Regions from separate parts of the Homo sapiens genome. Here region 1 is linked to region 2. Evidence: fine-mapped expression QTL. Tissue or cell type: lung. Region 2 holds a variant in brackets; the other region holds the start of a gene. All regions are shown on one strand. Distances are from middle to middle.

Region 1 (4,651 bases), 110 kb after region 2:
TTACATTTCTCCCTGAATTTGCTGCCACTTAATTTCAGCTACTCTTCTACAGAATAGTACCCATGTTATCTTTTTTTCTGTCTGGTTCCTACTCAAAAAGAGTGGAACTGCTTTCTCCAAATATGCATTCTGTGCTCAGAAGCTGTTTTCTCTGCCCAGATACATGTGTAAACAAGCCAAAAAAAACAAAACAAAAAAACAAAAACAAAAACAAAACTTTCTGCTAATAGATTGACAGCTACAAGGTAGAATATTTTAAAAATTCAGTAAGCTGGGCGCAGTGGCTCACTCCTGTAATCCCAACACTTTGAGAGGCCAAGGCAGGTGGATCACTTGAGGCCAGGAGTTCGAGACCAGCCTGGGCAACATGCTGAAACCCCGTCTCTACTAAAAATACAAAAATTAGCCAGGTGTGGTGGCATGTGCCTGTAAATCCCAGCTACTCGGGGGGCTGAGGCAGGAGAATAACTTGAAGACCTAGGAGGTGGAGGTTGTAGTGAGTTGAGATCGTGTCACTGCACTCCATCCTGGGTGACAGAACAAGACTCCAACTCGGGGGGGGAAGAAAAAAATCAGTAATAGTGAAAATAGCAAAACCAGACAACATTTCCATGTTTGTGTTACAACAGTCCTAAGAAAATGAGATTATCATCATCCCCCTGTTACAATTGAGAAAATGTAGGCAACACGAGGGTAACTTCTAATGAATAAGCCATGCCTTTGTTTCATATAAATAAGTCAACTCAACTCACATTAACTTTTCAAAATACCGGATAAAATTTATTTCTAACCAATGCAAGTTTCAAAGATAAGTACACAAATTAAATTTATGATTAAATAATAAGCTTGTTAATCTGATGCCTTTCGGAACGCATTTCACTTAGCAAACCTCAATTAAGCTATTTCTTATATGGTTTGATTACAAAACTGCCTTTCAGCATATTAAATACAAGGAGAAAAAACTGAAAAGCCACAACGATTTCAACTTCTGTAAATTACCCTGACTGTAATGAGGGGCGCCAGGCAGGTTGGGGAAGTATGGAAATTGCACACTGCACACACCACCTGACCACCAAGAAAAAAGAGGACACCACTCTTCCCCACTGTGGTCTTCACAAACTACAACTCAGCACCTATTTCAAGTGCATTTAAATATTCAAACAACTGAAACTAAGAGAAAAAAACTTTCGAAAGGGAAAATAACTTGTCTGTCCCCTTCAATGTTCACCTTGGAGTTGCTCTCATCTCTAGAAAAAGGCCTCACGCATACTGTTTATACTTACAAACTCCACTGCCCTGTCAAGGAAAACCTTCCTGTTTTCTCAGTTATCCAAAACTTCAAACTTCCAATTTACTATTAAGACAAGTTATTGGGCATCCACTTAGAGAATCTCAAACGAAAGCCAGATAGGAGGTAGTTTTCTACAGCTAGGTTTCTCAAGTTTCATCTCAGCCAAGTTTTAAGAACGTTTTACGTAAAAATAAGGGGAAAAGCAAAATTACATTCGCATGAAGTTTCGACGCACAACGGCACTGAAACGGAAAGACTCTTCACGTTCCCAAGCGCACCCTGAGAGGCAGGTGCAGCAGCTTTCCGATGGCTTCTCTGCCGCCCATGTATCCCAGCCCCAAGACCAACACAGGCAATCTTCACATCTGACTTTATTTTTTTAACTCCTTCAGATCCACCTCTGCTCAAGTCTATCAACAGGAAAACAGGAGCGTTCCAAACACACACCGAGCAACAGGATCCCAACTTCCTGGTTCTAAAGGAATGCGATGCCCTGATGACCCGTCCCGCCCCGCACCCGCACGGCCGCCTATCCGGGCTCCGGCGGGACCGAGGAGCGAGTGGCAAGGCTGGCGCCGCACTGCGGGTGCCGGCGCCCGCCCGGCCTGGGGGCGCTCGCGGCCCGCGACCCCGGCCCCGCCCAGGCCCTGCCCGACCCCCGTCCTCGCCGGCCTTCGCCCAACCCCGGCCTCCCGACCCTGACCCCGGCCCGGTCTTCCGGGCACCCAGCTCCGTCGACTCCCGCCTCGCCTCAACGGGTCCTCCTAAGCCCCGGCCCCGGCCTTCCCCTGCCCCGGCCTCGGCCATCCTCAGCCCCAGTTTTCCCCTGCCCCGGCCCCGGTCCTCCTCAGCCCCGGCTTTTTCCTGGCCCTGACCCCGGTCCTCCTCAGCCCTGGCCCTTCCCGTGCCCTAGCCCCGGTCCTCCTCAACCCGGCCCCGGCCTTCCCCTGCCCCGGCCCCGGCCCCGGCCCAGGCCCGGCCCTGCCCGCCGCGGCCGCGTCCTCCGGGAAGATGGCGGCGCAGTGACAGGCGGCGCGGCGCGGGTCCGAGCTGGGCCGGGAGGGACGGCCCGCCGCGGCCCAGGGTGCCTCACCTGTCAGCGCCGCCGCCCCGCCCGACCGGCCGCCCGCGGGCTCCTCGCCTCAACCCCGGGGCCCGGCGGCCGCGCCACACGCGGGGACGGCGAGGAGAGAGACGGCAGGGAGAGGCGGCGCGGCCGGGCCGGGCCGGGCCGGAGGTAGGGGAGAGGGCGGGCGCGAGCTGGCGGCGGCGGCGGCGGCGGATTCTTCCCCTTTCGGGCCCGAAAATGTCTCAACCCCGGGACTCCAGATCCCCAACGCTCCTTCCCGTTCGCATGAGAACACACAGCTCCCACTTCCGGGGCCCTGCGGAAGTCCCGCCCCCGCGCGGACCCGCGCCTCGCGCCCTGAACTCGCGCACTCACCCGCCGGTCCCGCGGACTGGCGCTCAGCCCCGGGAGAGCCTCACGTCATGGTGTTGCGGCGCGCTGATTGGGCGCACCCGACGCTCGGCCCGCCCCGCCGCCTTCTTGGCCTCTCCGCGCGTACACCCTGCTCGCGGCCTTGCGATTGGCGCGTGCGCGCACATCGCCCCGCCCCGCGCACGCCGCACGTCCGCCCCGCCCGCCCCGCCCGCCCCGCCCGCCGTCCCCGGCGCGACCGGAGCGCCTGACGCTGGGGGGCCGTGTGGGCCCTGACTTCCGGAGGGCTGGGCCCTGGTCCTCCGCCACCGCGTGCGCCCCTTAAAGACCCCTGCCCGCCGCCCAGGACGGATGGCGACCCCGGCCCTAGCCTGTCCCCAGACCCTGGACCAAGGCCCCGGCCCTGCCCCGAACCCCTCATCCCACCCCCAGGACCCAGGCCCCGACCCTGGCCACCCAGGACACGCCCTGGCCCTTCCCCGAACTCCCACCCCACAGCTGGGATCAAGGTCCCGGCCCTGCCCGGAACACCTCACCCCACACCCGGGACCCAGGCCCCGGCCCTGCCCCGAACTCCCACCCCACACCCGGGACCAAGGCCCCGGCCCTGCCCCGAACCCCTCACCCCACCCCCGGGACCAAGGCCCCGGCCCTGCCCAGAACTCCCACCCCACACCCGGGACCAAGGCCCCGGCCCTGCCCAGAACTCCCACCCCACACCCGGGACCAAGGCCCCGGCCCTGCCCCGAAGGCCCCACCGGGGACCCAGGCCCCGGCCCTGCCCCAAACTCCCACCCCACACCCGGGACCAAGGCCCCGGCCCTGCCCCGAACGCCCCACCCGGGACCCAGGCCCCGGCCCTGCCCCAAACTCCCACCCCACACCCGGGACCAAGGCCCCGGCACTGCCCCGAACGCCCCACCAGGGACCCAGGCCCCAGCCCTGTCCCGAACTCCCGCCCCACACCTGAGACGAAGGTCCCGGCCCCGAAGTCCCAACCCCACACCCGGGACCAAGGCCCCGGCACTGCCCCGAACCCCCGCCCCACACCCCTAACCAAGGCCTCGGCTCAGCCCCGGAATCCCCAACCCCACACCTGGGATCAAGGCCCCGGCCCTTCCCCAAACCCCCAACCCACACCCGGGACCAAAAGGCCCCGGCCCCACGTTTCCTAGAGGCGCTGGGTTCGGGCCCACGTTGCAACGAGTCAGATGCTCTTGGTAGCTCAGGGAGGTGTTCACACTCCTGCCGTTTCCGTGAGGATGGTGACGACTCCGAACTATAGCAGCATACTCTACCTACCCCTGATCAGTTTATGGAAGAAAAGGAAACCAAACAAAGTATGTTGCGTTTCCCTTAAGCTTGCTGCCTGATTTTCTGGTTTCTGCTCTGATTGGCTACATATACACATATTATCAATTATTCCAAATTTTAGGTTTGTTCCCCCATTAAAACGGCTTTTCAGGGATACCATATTCATGGTTAACCGTGTACCTGTGCTTACAACTGCTTTTTTAATTTTGTTTTTTGATACAGGGTCTTGCTCTATGCAGGTCTGCACTCTGAGCTCAGAGTGCTGTCTCGGGCCCCCAAAATCTGGGATTAGAGATGGGAGCCGGTGTACCCAGCCTGTGCTTATAATTTTTCGTACTCAGCGTTCAAATGCTGACAATTCTGCATTTTGGAAGAAAGCCTCTCCGGCTTCCCATAGTGGGTAGACTGTTGACATCAAGGTTGGGTGCCTTCTTTGTGAAACCTTGTTGCATCCTAGCTTTAAGGGAATTTGCAAGTTAAATAATTATATTCATAGTAATGTTTTTAAAGAACATTTAACGACATAAGACACATTTCCTTTAATATTAAAAGCATGTACATATTTCAGAAAACTTGCTTACCTGGACAACCTGCCCTGACCAGTA
Region 2 (4,651 bases):
AGTGCTGGGATTACAGGCGTGAGCCACAGCACCTGGCCTCTTTTATTATTATTATTATTTATTATTAAAATTATTAATTTTAACCTATAAAAAATCCTTTTTTAGACTCAGCCCAGGGGACAGTAAGGGATTAAACTCCCAAATTCAAGGAAAAGGCTCCCCCAAGATCAAACTACAGAGGCCACAACTCAGAGTAAGAGAGGCCACAGTTCACCCAGTAGGGAAAACAGCAGAAAGGAAGTCGCTGGGGTTCAGGCCTGCTGGGCCCACAGGGGTTGGAGGCTGGTGGGGCCACCATCTTGCTCTTCCTGTCTCTTCATCAGACACACGATGCGCGCGCACGCACGCAAACATACACACACGCGCGAAATGCTGAAATGATCCTAAAGTCTATGGAGAAACAGGAGCTGGGGTCTTGTTACTACTCAAGAAACCTCTATTGACCAACACTGAAATAAAAGGACTACATGGTGGTCTGAGAAAGAACTAGAGTAGTTAGTGGAAAATTATTAGCAAATATTAAAGGTATTTTGTACAGAAAACACAACACAGACAGACGCAAATAAAAACCCACCAAATTAGATGTGATTAAAAAACGAGCAGGTGCAGGAGTGCGCAGCGTCTGTTCACACCAGAGCCTCGCGGCTGTCGTGCAGGAAGGCAGGCACGAGGTACGTACCGTGGCGGCTCCGTTCACCTGCACCGATTTACACGCGGTCGCAGTGAGGGCGGAAGGAAGTCTGTCCACACTGTGGGTTTCCCTCTGTTTCTCCGCCACCTTGGGATCACTGTAAAAATGCCACCCGATATTTGAATCTCATGCAACATCACAGGCCATTCAAGTCAGTCAACACCAAGGCGCTGGAAGAACACCAATACTCACTCGGGTAAATGAGCTGGGGAGGGGGATCGCTCGTACGTTGCTGATACAGCACAAGAAGCCGGCACCGAGGGCTCTCTGGAGACCACTACAGGAAGGGTGTTCACGCTTGCGTCTGCACTGAGGGTCTGAAACAGGGTCAAGAGTGTTCATCAGAGTCCTGCCGGCACTAAGCGGAGCTGGTACCAGTGCCCGTTCACCCCACCCGTGAACAGCCTTGGGAGAGCAGCACAAGGACATAGGGGAAGAGGGTCTTCTCCAGCAAAAATGTCACAGAGCCCAGGACTATCCTCTGCCCCACAGATCGCCCACCCTTCTCTTTCTCGGCAAATGCCCCACTGTTCTTACATCACAGGCCCTTATCTCCTCTCCCGCAATGATGATCTACAAGCTTATTTCTTAACTGAACAGGCATCAAACACATCTCACCCACCTGGCACTTTGGGCCCAGCACGGCACGGCACAACACCACATGCATATCTGCTGAGTGTCGAATCCTAACACAGTCCAACACAACTCATTCACACCGCTGAGAAAAAACAATCGGCGCCTCCACACCCATATAAATGTGAGCTCCCAGCCCTCCCTGAATTCACAACCCCAGGAAGCAGGTGTGCGAATGCCCCCATCTCAACAGGTGAGGAAACTGAGGCCCAATACCTCTAAGTTAATTTGCCCAAGGCCAGGAAGCAAAGGACGGAGTGAAACTTACTCCCTCCTTACTCCAGCCAGCGACCCCTGTGCAGGGGCTATTTCATGTGTGCTTGATCTTATACATATGGCATGTGATGATACACTTGTCATGCAACTTAAAAAAGGCAGGAGGGCAGGTGCTCTTTACACTTCTGCCCTTAGATGAAGGCTGACGACAGACCTAGAGCCCTTCCAGCTGGAGAACCAGAATCCGCTGCAATTCCTGCGCTCGACCAGCAGGAATCCAGCTTGGTGGAAACAAGAGGGCAAAGGACTCCTTTTGTAAAAGCTCATTTTAAATTCAGGGTAGGGGCCGGGCACGGTGGCTCACGCCTATAATCCCCGCATTTTGGGAGGCTGAGGTGGACGAATCACCTGAGGTCAGGGGTTTGAGGCCAGCCTGGCCAACATGGTGAAACCCCATCTCTACTAATAATACAAAAATTAGCCGGGTGTGGTGGTGCATGCCTG[T/C]AGTCCCAGCTACTCGGTAGGCCGAGGCAGGAGAATCACTGGAACCCAGGAGGCGGAGGTTGCAGGGAGCCAAGGTCGTGCCACTGCATTCCAGCCTGGGTGACAGAGCAAGACTCTATCTTAAATAAACAAATTAACTAATTAATTCAGGATATGTGCAGTCCCAATGCAAATGAAATGCAGATCCACAACTGCAGGTCATGAAGCAAGTCAGAGTGACCATCACGAGCTCCATGTCAACAGGGGAAGGGCTGAACCCCATCATTTCTGGAGCCTCCACCCCACTTTGAAACCCAAGGGCCACGCTGTTGACTCAAGAAGCTCCCAAGAAGCAGCAATGGAGCCCACTACACCTGGGTGGTGGCATAAGGCTCAGGGTCAGGCTTTTCAAAGAAGCAATTCTTTCTTCAAGAGAAACCTTACACAAGACTCAAACTGGGCACAGCAGGAGCTGCTGTTTCTGAAGCAGGGTTGGAGACCTGCCTCTTCTCCTCCACTCAATACCAACGGGAGTAGGCTACAGTTGGAAAACTAGAATTCATGATCTTTAAACTGCATTTCTTCTCAAGGCACTAATACCTTAGAAATGACGGTGTGGAAATTTAAGGCTAATGTGACAATCCTGGAATGTACTCAATCTCCAAACAGGAGCATGACCATCTACCAATATGAAAAGGACTAGACACGTCACCTGGCTTTCATTGTAAAGATACTGCATCAAAATCCACCTTAAATTCTGCCCTAGGAAGTGAGGAATGGTTCTATCTACTGCGGGGCCTTCCCTAAAGCCCAGGGTGGAAGAGACACTGACTCTGCAGACCTGGGTGGGGTAGCAAGCAGCACGGTCATGTGGCGTGGAACAGACACGTGGTAACTCTGGGGCACAGCTGGGGAAAGGGCCCCTGGCACAGGGGACACCGGCAACCTGGAGTGCTCAGCAGGTTCTTCCTGGGCTCTTCCTATGCACAGTAGGTAACTGGGCAGAAAACTTCCTCTGTACTTCCCAGAGCCTTCAACGCCAGGTGTGGCAGCCGGCCAAGTCCCACTTCCACCTCCTAAGCACATTAGAGGCCAGAGTGCTGGGCTGAGTGTCCTCTGTCATCTGCAGCTCGGGACGACTCCTGGGATGATATTCACTGCAGTGGAGGCGGCACCTCGTGGGGCAGCCCAGACCTCACCAGAAGCTACCGACACTACAGTGAGGTTCTCCCAGGCTTCTTGCTCCTTGTCTCATGTAGATTACTACACATTTTAATCATTTCCAATACAATTCAGATGTTTCCATTTCATTCTGTTGTTTTATAAAATAAAGGCAGGTCTGAACTACAACAATGACAATGCAATCTAAGTTTCTGGGTGAGAGAAAGGGTGTGTACGGCACATCATGGCACACGTTTCTACCTCTGACTTCATCAGACAGCAATGTTAAGGAGAAGGCCCAGCCCTGGGTTCAAGGCTGGCCTTACTCCAAATCTGTGTGACCTCTGCAATCACGTGGCCTCCAAGCCTCTCTTGAGTATTAAAAACAAACATGTATAAAGAGCTCAGCAAAGCGCCTGACACGGAACCCGTACCTAGACACTGTTGGCAACTATTAGACATGCAATATATCCCTTACCCTTTCTTTGGATGGTCCTATTATCAAGCTAGATAGCCTGTTTTCAAACAAGTCCTCTGTCTTCAAATTGCCGGCAGCTCCAGGTAATGGAGGGAAGCTGGACAGCCCCAGCTCGAAGCTTGGCGACGGAGGCTTTGGTGGCGTTGGAGACTGTGTCTGGCTGCTCTGCAACAGAATGACACCCCAGGGTCACGGTATGGAGAGAGAAGGCCAAGCAGCTTCTCGTTTCCACACCTGTCTGGAAAATATCTGTAGAAACAAGCAGATCATTCAACCCAGACAAGGGCTTCCTCACTCAATTGAAGGTTCTCCCAAGCAACTTCAACCATCTAGAGCAGAGCTGTAAAACTGAAATCTCAAGGATGCTGCTGCCCAAGAGATGTGTCACAAAGGACACAGTGAGGCTAAGGTGACATCCAAAGAGCTATCCACCCATGGCTGCCAGCACTCACGAACAGCAGGGGCAGCTGAAGGCAAGGGAGACACTCTGGAGTGACTCCAGCCCACCAGATGGAAAGCAGGGCAGCCTGAGTCTAGACATTAAACTTTCTCACTTTCAGACAAGTGTTGTGTTACTACAGCATAGTTTTTAATGTGAGTCACAAGATAATTGTAAAAAACAAAATATGACACTCTCTCCACAACCTGTGTAAGAAATTTTACACACGTGCATCAAAAAAGTGGTTTAACAAAAGGGAAGGGGGCTCGAATTCTCTGAAAATAAACTTAATGAAAGTTTATATTTTTAAATAATTAAAAACACAGGATTTGACAACAAATTCTAATCAGATTCTTTGACTTCCAAGAAAGCAAACTCAGTATAATAAGAAGTGAGTGTACTTTGTAAGCCCAAATCTCAGAAGAAAGGCAGTAATACCTTTTATTGGAAAATGATCTATCAACCCGCTTTAACAAGCTGGCAGTCATTTTGCGAGTACGCAGTTCCTCGGCTGAAGGACACATGGCACAGAAAGGGGAAATGAGTTTGC

What was found. PIP is the estimated chance that this variant, and not a neighbour inherited with it, causes the effect.
Region 1: it holds the start of LARP4B, and the variant in region 2 is fine-mapped to the expression of LARP4B in lung (TOPMed, PIP 0.91).

What each region holds. Positions count from the first base shown.
Region 1 is chr10:929,044-933,694 of GRCh38, forward strand. It overlaps LARP4B (La ribonucleoprotein 4B), which reads right to left and starts at 2,662. Exons shown (of 18, transcript NM_015155.3): 1 at 2,385-2,662. It overlaps LOC124902363 (keratinocyte proline-rich protein-like), which reads left to right and starts at 2,948. Exons shown (of 2, transcript XM_047426111.1): 1 at 2,948-4,072. The coding sequence starts at 3,084. The coding sequence ends at 3,788. It overlaps LARP4B-DT (LARP4B divergent transcript), which reads left to right and starts at 3,983. Exons shown (of 3, transcript NR_120629.1): 1 at 3,983-4,072. RefSeq lists silencers at 1,853-1,982, 2,073-2,152, 2,183-2,292, 2,363-3,072, 3,153-3,242.
Region 2 is chr10:814,063-818,713 of GRCh38, forward strand. It overlaps LARP4B (La ribonucleoprotein 4B), which reads right to left. Exons shown (of 18, transcript NM_015155.3): 15 at 3,663-3,827; 16 at 884-1,008; 17 at 680-788. Among named protein-coding and RNA genes, the nearest start is that of LARP4B, 120 kb to the right of the region's middle. RefSeq lists enhancers at 150-650, 651-1,151. The variant T/C (reference allele first, on the strand shown) is at 2,045.